3 linked regions of the Homo sapiens genome follow. The protein of the gene in region 2 interacts with the protein of the main gene of each other region in a pairwise test. Each region holds a gene or a part of one and is shown on either strand. Other genes may lie near its edges. The genes, in order: RARB, HR and TBL1X.

Region 1 (3,649 bases), on a different chromosome or scaffold from region 2:
AGTCAAATCTAAGCAGGGAGGGTCCTTCTGAAACAGAGCCCCGAGGAAGAGTACTCGGCAGTTTTTCTCAAAGTTATACGCAGAGGTACCATGTGACGCAGCAATTCCTCTCCTAGGTGTACACCCAAGAGAACTGAAAATATGTGTCTATGCAAAACTTGTCCATGAATGTTCATGACAGTGTGACTCACGGCAGTTGAAAAGTGGAAAGAACCCAAATGTTCATCACCCGATGACGGGGAAGTGGAATCTAGGACGTCCTTATGGTGGAATATTATTTGTCATAGAAAGGAATGAATTATGGATGCATACTACAACACAGATGAAGCTTTCACACATACGCCTTAAAGAAGCCAGTCGCAAAAGGCCACACATTGTGTGATTCTAAATTATATGGATGTCCAGAACAGGCCAATCCAAAGACAAAAAGTAGACTCGTGGCTGTCAGGTACGGGGGCAAGTTGGTGGGGAGGGAGGATCGGGAGTGCTAACGGGTTCAGGGTTTTGTTTTTTAGGAGATGAAAATGTTCTGGACTTACTGGTGAAGGCTGCACAACTTAGTGGATCCACTACGCACCGCTGAATGGTACAGTTTAAAATGATGAATGTTATGCTACGTGAATTATATCACAAAACAACACCAACAAAAAACCCAGAGCCCTGTGGGAGGTGACACATCGCTAAATACCAGGAACTGTTTGAGTCGATTCTGAAGCTGAGATGACACCTACAGCTACATTAAAACACAGCAGCAGCCTCACTACCCTTTAGTGATTGTGTGGCAAGGGCCACTGGGCATCAGCAGGTGAAGAATCCTAGCTCGCGAAATCCCCACAGTAAGCCAGGTGAGGTGGGCCTTATGACCCCATTTCTACACTCAAGGAACTTGAGGCCCAACAATACCATGTTTGAAAATAGTCAACCCAATGTGCAGAAAGAGAAACCACAAAACAAACTAACAACCCACAGAAGGAGTCCCCATAATCCCATCCACAGGGAAGTCTGCAGGACCTGTGTCTGCTCCTAAGCATTCTGCTTCACTGTCCCCATCCACCACCAGGGGCCTGGAAAACTCAGACGAGCAAACCCAGCTCTAGAGGGTTACCAGGAGAGAGGAGACACTGTGAGCTGTCACCATGAAGTAACTGAACCAAGCAAGAAAGGGAGGGGTGAGGTCCTGTGGGAAGGGGCCCTGGGTGAGCTGCAGCTGGGCACCAAGTTGGGCATCTCTGTTGGGTTGTGCAGTGATCACACACGCCGTTTGCAAAATCACAACTGTGAAGCCAGAGCACCATTTTCTGTGCTTTGGGCCCAATTTGGAGCAGCCTTTGCAGCTCACTCGAAGGGGAGCAGTGTGTAACCTCAGGCTACTTTCCACACTCCTTTTGTCCCCTACGTGAAGTCCCACCACCACTGTCTATGTGAATAAAGGACTCCTGGGATTATCACAAATTCTTCCACACCCACAAAATGCAGGGACAACCCCTCTGGTGATGATGCCCCAATTACATACAGCTTCATAAGTTGACGGACAAATTTTCTAAACACGTGGCTTCAGCAGCTGCTTCCCTCAATGGTTTTAAACTCTAGAAGAACGCAGACGCAGTGTTTGAGAAGGGCTGCCAAGAACCACCAGAATCATGGAGGTGACACAGTGCACAAGAAGCCACGGGGGCCTAGGGATGGTAGCTTTGTCCAAGTTCTTGGGACTATTGGTCCCTTTGAGGCCTCGTGGTCAGTGGCTCCTGGGGCAGTGCAGGGACTCGTTCCCCTGGAGGCCAGCAGTGGGAGGCAAGGGCGATACAAGTACTGCAGGGGAAGTCAGGAGATCTGGAACTAGTGCTAGCTCCACCACTTACCACCTGGGGTCAACTCCAGAGGAGACAGCTCCTTTCAGAGCCTCCCCCGAGATGGCAGTAGCACCTGCATGGAGACACACAGATGGTGGGCTTGGTGGGAAGGAGGTAGACTACTGTAAAGGCCTATGTGGGTTAGTTATGCAGGAAGAATGTAAGGCCCTTCCGTGGGGGAAATGGATGACCTAAACACCAAGGACTTGTGGGGATTACTGTGGGGCCTGTGGCTGTCAGTGGCAGAGGAGACTGATATGAAAAATGGTGCTTGGAGAAGCCATCGCAGTGGCACCAAATGAGTGGGTGGATTCATTTGTTCCTTCATTGTTTTGTTCATTCATTCATTCAATGAATATTTATTGAGTATCTACTATGTGCCATCGCAAAACAGGATGGTTGTTGCTACCATGGAGCAAAAACTTATGGTAGCAGACAGACATTCATCATACAATAAAACAGTGACAGTAATAATAATAATAATAGAATATTGGCATCACTATTATTACATGTACTGCAATTAATATACGAGAGTATTATTTACCACAATACTGAAAGTGTTCATTACAACTATCATAAAGCCTTCTATTCATGGTAGGCCATTCAATCCTTACAACAACCTAATAGAGTAGATATCACTATTATACCCATTTTGCAGATGAGAAAGTGGAGGCACAGGAAGGTGAGTACCCTGCCTGAGGCCATGCATCCTGTGAGTGATACAGTCAGGATCAGAACTTAGGAAACCCACTGTGCTCCGCTGCGTCTGAGTCTACCCCATGTACACACAGTCCACAGCGTAGTGAGTACAATGAAGGATGCTACAGGGAGCTGTGCCTGTGTATTACTGGGTGTGGCAGGGGGATCCTACTGGTCCTAGATTAGGAAGCTAACGCTGGGGAATTGGGAGGGTAAATTGAGGGATGCTATGGGATGGTGGGTGGGGAGATGACTCTCTTCTCTGGGAGCGTGGGGTGTGCATCTGATGCTCAGCTCCAAGGCTGCCTGGGATGTTTGATGGTGGACCTCTTCTTTCACTCTGATTGCGACTGACTGGTATATGCACTCATATACCTATGCCAGACCTGGGAGTTTGACAAGCTGCTTTCAGGTACGGTGCACCTCTGGGAGGGAATGGAGAGGCAAAGAGAGGAGCAAACACTGTCAAGCCTGCATCAAAGCCCTCCCCTCCAAGTCTGTGAATATCTGAAAGGCAAGGGCCACATGTTACTTGTCTCTATGTCCCCAGGGCTTAATACAAGATCCGACCCACAGATGGGGGCCTCAAAACTGTTTTGCAAATGATAAGGTAGACATATAACTAAATGTGGTGTTCTGTCCACTGTCAGGGCCTATATGTGGCAATACAGAGTTCACCTGAGCCTCTTTCTTCCAGAACTTAAAGGTCTCACTATCATGTTGGGGTCTGCGGGGGAATCACTAACTGCTCTCCACCCCTACAGTAGTAGCCAGAAGGTTGATGAAGCAGGTGGGGCATTCAGGGGGTCACAGATGTGATTTATACACCTGATAGAACCCGGCCTGATGTTTGCAAAGCGCTTCTTGGATGAAAGGTGCTCCATAAAATATCAAGTATTCTCCTTGTGAGGGGCTAAGTGCTACAAATCAGATTTGGTGGCATAAAAGTAACATATTTATGATCCACTATCATATTGCAAATGAAATGAATGTAATAAAAGTGTCACTTATACAAATACCTCTGATGTACGGATCTCGACCTATGAATATGAAAACAGACACCCAAGCACTTTTATTTGAATGTCTAATCATGGAAATAA
Region 2 (3,649 bases):
GCCCTCCCTGTGGGGCCCAGTGGGTCCTAAGCCCCTGTGCCCCTCTCTGCAGGATGACCGCATCACCAACATCCTGGACAGCATTATCGCACAGGTGGTGGAACGGAAGATCCAGGAGAAAGCCCTGGGGCCGGGGCTTCGAGCTGGCCCGGGTCTGCGCAAGGGCCTGGGCCTGCCCCTCTCTCCAGTGCGGCCCCGGCTGCCTCCCCCAGGGGCTTTGCTGTGGCTGCAGGAGCCCCAGCCTTGCCCTCGGCGTGGCTTCCACCTCTTCCAGGAGCACTGGAGGCAGGGCCAGGTGAGGCACCCCTCCCCTCCCCTCCCGGCCCTGGCCACCCCACCTGCCCCTCGGGGCCTTGGTCCCTAGGCCCAGACAGACCCAGTGGCTCAGGGGGAGCAGGAGGGCTGTCCCCGAGCTGTTCTACTGCCCTTACAACACGCCCTTGCCTGGCCATGGCGGGCACCCTGGCCATTCTCCTCATGGCCTCCTTCCTTTCCCACCACAGCCTGTGTTGGTGTCAGGGATCCAAAGGACATTGCAGGGCAACCTGTGGGGGACAGAAGCTCTTGGGGCACTTGGAGGCCAGGTGCAGGCGCTGAGCCCCCTCGGACCTCCCCAGCCCAGCAGCCTGGGCAGCACAACATTCTGGGAGGGCTTCTCCTGGCCTGAGCGTAAGTGTCCCCAACACAGGGGAGAGGGAGCTGGGAGCCCAAGCCCTAGGGATCGGGTGGCAGAGGAGTCCCAGGGTGACCCCGAGGGGCTGGAAGCAGGTGTTGCTGCCGCCGGGGCAGGGGCTTCAGGGCTGAGGAGGCCAATGGCCGTTCTGTCTCCTCCTGTAGTTCGCCCAAAGTCAGACGAGGGCTCTGTCCTCCTGCTGCACCGAGCTTTGGGGGATGAGGACACCAGCAGGTGTGTATGTCACCAAGGGCCAGCCCTACCTCCCCGCCACCGCAGGCCCCGCCTGGTTCAGCCCTCCCCTCCTCCTCTGCCCCCAACCCCCACCCCGTGGTCCCTGGTACTCTCATGTTTGCCCTCTGGGAGTTACCCCGGTGGTGGTGGGGCTTTGATGGGGTCTCTGGTGCCCAGGTTGGGCCTGCTGGGCATGACCCCCTACCCTGACAGGGTGGAGAACCTAGCTGCCAGTCTGCCACTTCCGGAGTACTGCGCCCTCCATGGAAAACTCAACCTGGCTTCCTACCTCCCACCGGGCCTTGCCCTGCGTCCACTGGAGCCCCAGCTCTGGGCAGCCTATGGTGAGTGTCCCTCCACTCCTGCCCAGTCTCTACTCCCATGCCTGTCTGCCTGTCATCTCGGGGCACACGAGCGTCTGTGCCAAGGCCCTGGGGCCTGAAGCGCTTCTCTGATTCCATTTCTTTCTTTCTTTTTTTTTTTTTTTGTTGTTGTTGAGACGGAGTTTTGCTCTTGTTGCCCAGGCTGGAGTGCAATGGCACTATCTCGGCTCACCGCAACCTCCGCCTCCCAGGTTCAAGCAATTCTCCTGCCTCAGCCTCCCGAGTAGCTGGGATTACAGGCATGCACCACCACGCCCGGCTAATTTTTTCTATTTTTAGTAGAGAGGGGGTTTCTCCATGTTGAGGCTGGTCTCAAACTCCTGACCTCAGGTGATCTGCCCGCCTGGGCCTCCCAAAGTGCCAGGATTACAGGCGTGAGCAACCGCGCCTGGCTCTCTGATTCCATTTCTAACTGTTCTTTCTCTATTGCCATGCAGGTGTGAGCCCGCACCGGGGACACCTGGGGACCAAGAACCTCTGTGTGGAGGTGGCCGACCTGGTCAGCATCCTGGTGCATGCCGACACACCACTGCCTGCCTGGCACCGGGCACAGAAAGGTAGGTCCTCGGCCAGAGGCAGGAGCGGGGACAAGCTACAGAGGTGAGTGTTTGTCGCCACCAGCCCTGGGCCTGCCTGAGCGCTCTTTCCTCCTCAGACTTCCTTTCAGGCCTGGACGGGGAGGGGCTCTGGTCTCCGGGCAGCCAGGTCAGCACTGTGTGGCACGTGTTCCGGGCACAGGACGCCCAGCGCATCCGCCGCTTTCTCCAGATGGTGAGGAGGCAGCCGGGAGCCCTCCCCTTCCCCCCGCCCAGCCCTAGAAGCTCGTCCAGTCCCACCCCAGTGTGCGGTCCCATGTGCTCGCTCCCTGCCCCACGCCCTCAGGTGAGCTGCACAGACCCAACTCGCACAGACAGGTGCAGAGAAGGCAGAGGGGACCCGGAGTTCTGCCGTGGGGCTCAGAGAAGGGGCAGGGGCTGCGGCAGGAGAGCCTGGACCCGATGATGAAATGAGAGCACCAGCTGCCCGAGGCTGGACGTGGTGCTAGGGCCTTAGGCACAATTATCTGTTACCCGTCTCAGCCCCCCGCCCCATGAGGCAGGCACTGCTCCTTTCCCATTGGCAGATGAGAACACCGAAGCTCAGTGGCAGGGCTGGGATCTGAGCTTCTGTCTGTCATGGCCCCAGGTCACTACTCTATGCTCTTCCTGGAGGCAGGCAGCCTCCTCTGCCTTCTGAGACTCCGTCCGGCTGCCCACCTTTTGGTATTTGCATCTTGTTAGGGGAGACTGCCTGGAGGAGATGCTCCCGGAGGGGCTAGCAAGGAAGGGGGCTGAGGGAAGTGGAGGGAGAGATGGGTCAGGTGAGGAGCCAGGGAAGGGGAAGGTGATGGGGTGGGCTGGAGGCAAGAAGCTTGAGGCGCAGGGGAGGAGAGAGTCCAGGGGTAAGGCGAGGGCAGCCCCGTGGTTCCCAAGTCCAGCTGAGCCCTCATTATCCTGGGGAAAAGACTTCCACCTAGTGTCACCCCTCGCCAAGGCACACACACACACGGAGACGTGCAGAGGCCAGCATGGTGTGCACCCCTCCTGCCCACAGGTACACACATGTGTAGATACACACACAGATGCTGGGACACGCAGAGGGGAGCAGACAAGCACACCTCCACACACAGATGGCCTCTTCTGGGCTGGGTGTGGCTGGCCGTGGGCAGTCACTACGGCCCAACCCAGTGACTCACGGGGCAGGGCTGAGGGGCACAGTCTCCCTGGGTGGCCTGGGAAACACTGCTCAGCTCCAGGATGGAGCTGAATCTCCAAGGGCAAAGGAATCTTGGCACCCAGCTGGGACTCCCCTAGGGTCCAATTTGCTTCACCAGCCTTCCCTTCCCCCACGCCCCATCTTGCAGCCCTAAGCCCAGGGGCAATGGCTGAGGTCCTTGCCAAAGGGGGTGGATTGGGCTGGTGGTGGGTTGGAGCACGATGCTGGCGTCCCCTTTGCACATGTTCCCTGGGCACCTCTGTCCTCTGCGAGTCCCTGCCTGCCCAGAGAGCTCCCTGCTCTGGTTAGGCTTGTGAGGTCCCCGTAGCTGTGGCTGCTGCAGAGGCCTCAGCCTGGCCGGAAAGCCTGTTCACCTGCTGGCACTCAGAGCCTCGCAGTGGTCCTTCCCTTTTCTGCATCCGGAATCTTAGGGAGACCCTGATGAACACTTTGAGTTGTCTCCCCAGGGACACACAGCTCTCTCCTCATCCACCACTTAGCACACAATTCTGGCCATTCCAAAGACTTCAGATGAAGAAGTCCTGGTAGACAGTTTATGAACTGGGATTATGCAGGACGTCTCCCTCGGATTTGCAGAAAGGGG
Region 3 (3,649 bases), on a different chromosome or scaffold from region 2:
TCACCTGAGGTCAGGAGTTCGAGACCAGCCTGGCCAACATGGCAAAACCCCGTCTCTACTAAAAATACAAAAATTAGCCGGGTGCAGTGGCAGGCGCCTGTAATCCCAGCAACTCGGGAGGCTGAGGCAGGAGAATTGCTTGAACCCAGGAGGCGGAGGTTGCAGTGAGCTGAGATCACGCCACTACACTCTAGCCTAGGCGACAGAGTGAGACTCTGCCTCAAAAAACAAACAAACAAATAACCAGATTTAAAGATTTAAAGCACCCTAGGACTTTTATCACAACTCAATTCCAGTACAATCTCACGTTGATGTCTTTGAAATTCTGAACCATTTCTGCAGCAAAACGCCTAATTCTCCAGAGCCCTGAGGGCATCCGTCAATGAAATCAGCTGATTTATAAACAGAATTCAGTGATTATGAAAACAATGCAGTCATAAAACGCTTAAAAAGCATAGCATTGTTCCAAGGTTTCCTTGTGGACCTGCAAACAGGTACTGTCATCTAGTTCCGAAACAAGCGCATTTTTTCAGCTTTAAAAACAACACGCAAAATACAATAGATCCAGTATGTGCATGGTTCCCTGTTATTGCATATTCTTTCTTCCCTAAGTCAAATCACTAATACCTGTACCTCTGGAACGATGTCCAGTCCTTAAGCTGGTGGATCTCAAAGTTACTTAACGCACATACATGTGCGTGCAAACGCACACATACCTTAGTAGCTGAAGTCAGAGGAAAGGGGAGTACAACTGTGTCCTACCTGCAGGCAGGGACGTTGGTATCACCCCCTCTTCCAGCCTTTGGGGACCTACATCATAAATGTTTCTTTCATCATATATCCTTTTCAGCAAAAAAGTTTTCAGAAGGTGCTCCTAACTCATGTAATTTATTAAATATATAAAATACTCAAGTAACATGCATTTCATGGACAAGAAATATATTTTTTACAAGTATTAGAGATTTTCTTAATGGACATTTTCATAATTTCTTCCTGCATCCCAATAAATCTTGCTGTGCACCTGCCAGAGGGCATGAAACTCACTAAGACCCTTTTGGGAATTAAAATCTGAAACAAGTCATTTCTGTCCCCTGTCCTTCCCCCAAATTTAGAGACTACTGGCTTAAAGGAATTACACTCAGAGTCCCATAAAATTTAACAGAGCATCCCGTGACATGTAATATCAACAAGTATCTCTCCTTGCTCTCATCTGGTCTACAATAATTTCTGTCATGTACTGGACAGGGAAGATTATTCATTCTTATTTTCACGAACTTATGAGCTGAGTGCATCTCAAAGGTTAGGCTTTTTGAAGTATCCTAAGACAGATCCCTGGAAATGGCTGAAGTTGACATAGAACCACTGTGTCTTGAAAATGCAAGCTGAATCTGGTATTTTCTTCATAATCAAATTGGGAATTAAACCAAACCCCCTTCAAAGGTGGGGGACAGAACTGTCCCAAATGAGAACCATTAGTTGGCTGCAACATTCCAGAGCTCAACGTTGAAAACACTGTTCCAATAAGAAAGCATCTTTTCTACCTTCATTTCTAAAGCTTCCCTTTCTCCTGAACCCACCGCCTATCATGCCCCATCTCAATCTCTCTGATCCCATCGGACAAGAACAAACCTAGACAAGAAAAGGAAACAGTACCCGACTTCCTCTGAACAGGTCCTCCAGACTCTCCTGCTACTGTCAGAAGTTGGCAATTGCTGTTTTCAAGTTTATAATTTTGAATTCTTGAGTTTTTATCAACATGGAGCTGGCATTACAGTTGTGTACGATTCAAATGCTTGATAAGATTCTGTTGAAAAAAGAACTGAAGGCAAGGACACAAGTTTATTCTGTTCCCCAAATGAACCAAATGGCAGGGACGTCAATTTCCTATTCAGGGATATCAATTCTCTACGCTTTCGGGAAATACAATCTGAAACTGTGAAGCCACCTGGACTTTTATAGCACCTGGGAATTACCTTTGCACATTGGCACTACCGATTTTTACATGGCAGACTTTGGCGACAGTTCTCCACTCAACTTCATTTCTCATCTTCACATAGATGACAAGGTAACAGTGACAACTAAAGGAGCACAAGCATCCAGGCTGACAATTACCCAATTACCCACAGTGCACCAGAAACTGAAATCACGACTCAGTCCTGCTGAATTTTCCTCCAGTTCTTAAAATTATTGTTTTTTTTTTTGAGACGGAGTCTTGCTCTGTCACCCAGGCTGGAGTGCAGTGGCGCAATCTTGGCTCACTGCAAGCTCCACCTCCATGGTTCACGCCATTCTCCTGTCTCAGCCTCCCAAGGAGCTGGGACTATAGGCGCCCACCACCATGCCTGGCTAATTTTTTGTATTTTTAGTAGAGACGGGGTTTCACCGTGTTAGCTAGAATGGTCTCGATCTCCTGACCTCGTGATCTGCCCCCCTCAGCCTCCCAAAGTGCTGGGGGGCATGAGCCACCACACCTGGCCTCTTAAAATTATTTTATATGGTCTTGCCATATTAAAGTATATGTTGGCCAGGAACAGTAGCTCACAACTGTAATCGCAGCACTTTGGGAGGCCGATGCAGGAAGATTGCTTGAGTCCAGGTGCTCAAGACCAGCCTAGGCAACACAGCAAGACCCAATCTCTAGAAAAAAATTGAAAATTAAAAAAAAAAAAAAAAAGAAAGAAAAAAAAAAAGCTGGACATGCTGACTTGTGCCTGTCGGCCCAGCTACTTGGGAGGCTGAGGCAGAAGGATCACTTGAGCCCAGAAAGCCAAGGCTGCAGTGAGCTATGATCAGGGCAACAGAGCAAGACCCCATCTCTAAAAATACATAAATAAAGTATTTGTTATTATTGATTTAAGGAATAAAATGGCACCATGTACAATAAGCTTCTTTTTGTCCAAATTCCCTTCTATCAGGAAATTCAGACAAGCAAAAATGCTCGCAGCACTGAACAATACTGCACATTCACATGGACTCTAAATCCTAACAACAGGCAGGTCCCTAATTGGAAAGAGTCAAGCCTAAAGGGGACACATGCCCTTCTCTTCTTGCTCCGACATGATGGTGCTGGGGATGCAGTTTCAACAGACCCGAAGGAAGGTTTCAGCGTCTTGGAGAGCTGGCCGGGAAGGTTACCGGGCAGGAGAGAGCCTCACCTCCTCCCTACTCCCATATTCTAGCCTGGGCAGGTGTTCCAGAAAGGAAAGAGCCCTGTGCAGGCTATCTGGGGTCATAATCGGTTCCAGGCTCAAGGGAAACAGGCAGAAAAAACTCTCATGTTTTCTTTAAAGCATTCCGGCTACATCCACCACGATAGGAAAAATGACAAGAATTCAAGGCAGACACCCAGGTCAAGAATAAACACTGTGAGTTTTGCCGTGAGCATTGTTTGTGCTTCTTTCACAGGGTCTCCTGGGGCTGGAGAACTGCCGCACTCCCCGGAATCACTCAGAGGCGCCCAGCAGCACAAAGCGCCTTCTGACTCGCTGTGGGTTTCTGAACTAAAATGCGCAACTAACTTATCAATGTTTACCAAAATATCGCTTATTTTAATCATGGGAAAACTGATACTCTAGGCACCGGACATAAACAACTGTCACTTGATCCCAATGTTTAGTTAACATAAAACCGTCATCCTTAACCAGTCTGA

Evidence for each region.
Region 1: the proteins of HR (region 2) and RARB interact in a two-hybrid assay, tested with the Homo sapiens proteins (one large-scale study listed by BioGRID and IntAct).
Region 3: the proteins of HR (region 2) and TBL1X interact in a two-hybrid assay, tested with the Homo sapiens proteins (one large-scale study listed by BioGRID and IntAct).

The regions. Positions count from the first base shown.
Region 1 is NC_000003.12:25,564,128-25,567,776, reverse strand, and holds part of RARB (retinoic acid receptor beta), read right to left. Parts: intron 1-3,649. UniProt on the Homo sapiens protein: Receptor for retinoic acid. Retinoic acid receptors bind as heterodimers to their target response elements in response to their ligands, all-trans or 9-cis retinoic acid, and regulate gene expression in various biological processes.
Region 2 is NC_000008.11:22,117,362-22,121,010, reverse strand, and holds part of HR (lysine-specific demethylase hairless), read left to right. Parts: intron 1-52; coding exon 53-295; intron 296-503; coding exon 504-669; intron 670-837; coding exon 838-907; intron 908-1,120; coding exon 1,121-1,251; intron 1,252-1,727; coding exon 1,728-1,847; intron 1,848-1,945; coding exon 1,946-2,061; intron 2,062-3,649. UniProt on the Homo sapiens protein: Histone demethylase that specifically demethylates both mono- and dimethylated 'Lys-9' of histone H3. May act as a transcription regulator controlling hair biology (via targeting of collagens), neural activity, and cell cycle.
Region 3 is NC_000023.11:9,471,465-9,475,113, reverse strand, and holds part of TBL1X (F-box-like/WD repeat-containing protein TBL1X), read right to left. Parts: intron 1-3,649. UniProt on the Homo sapiens protein: F-box-like protein involved in the recruitment of the ubiquitin/19S proteasome complex to nuclear receptor-regulated transcription units. Plays an essential role in transcription activation mediated by nuclear receptors.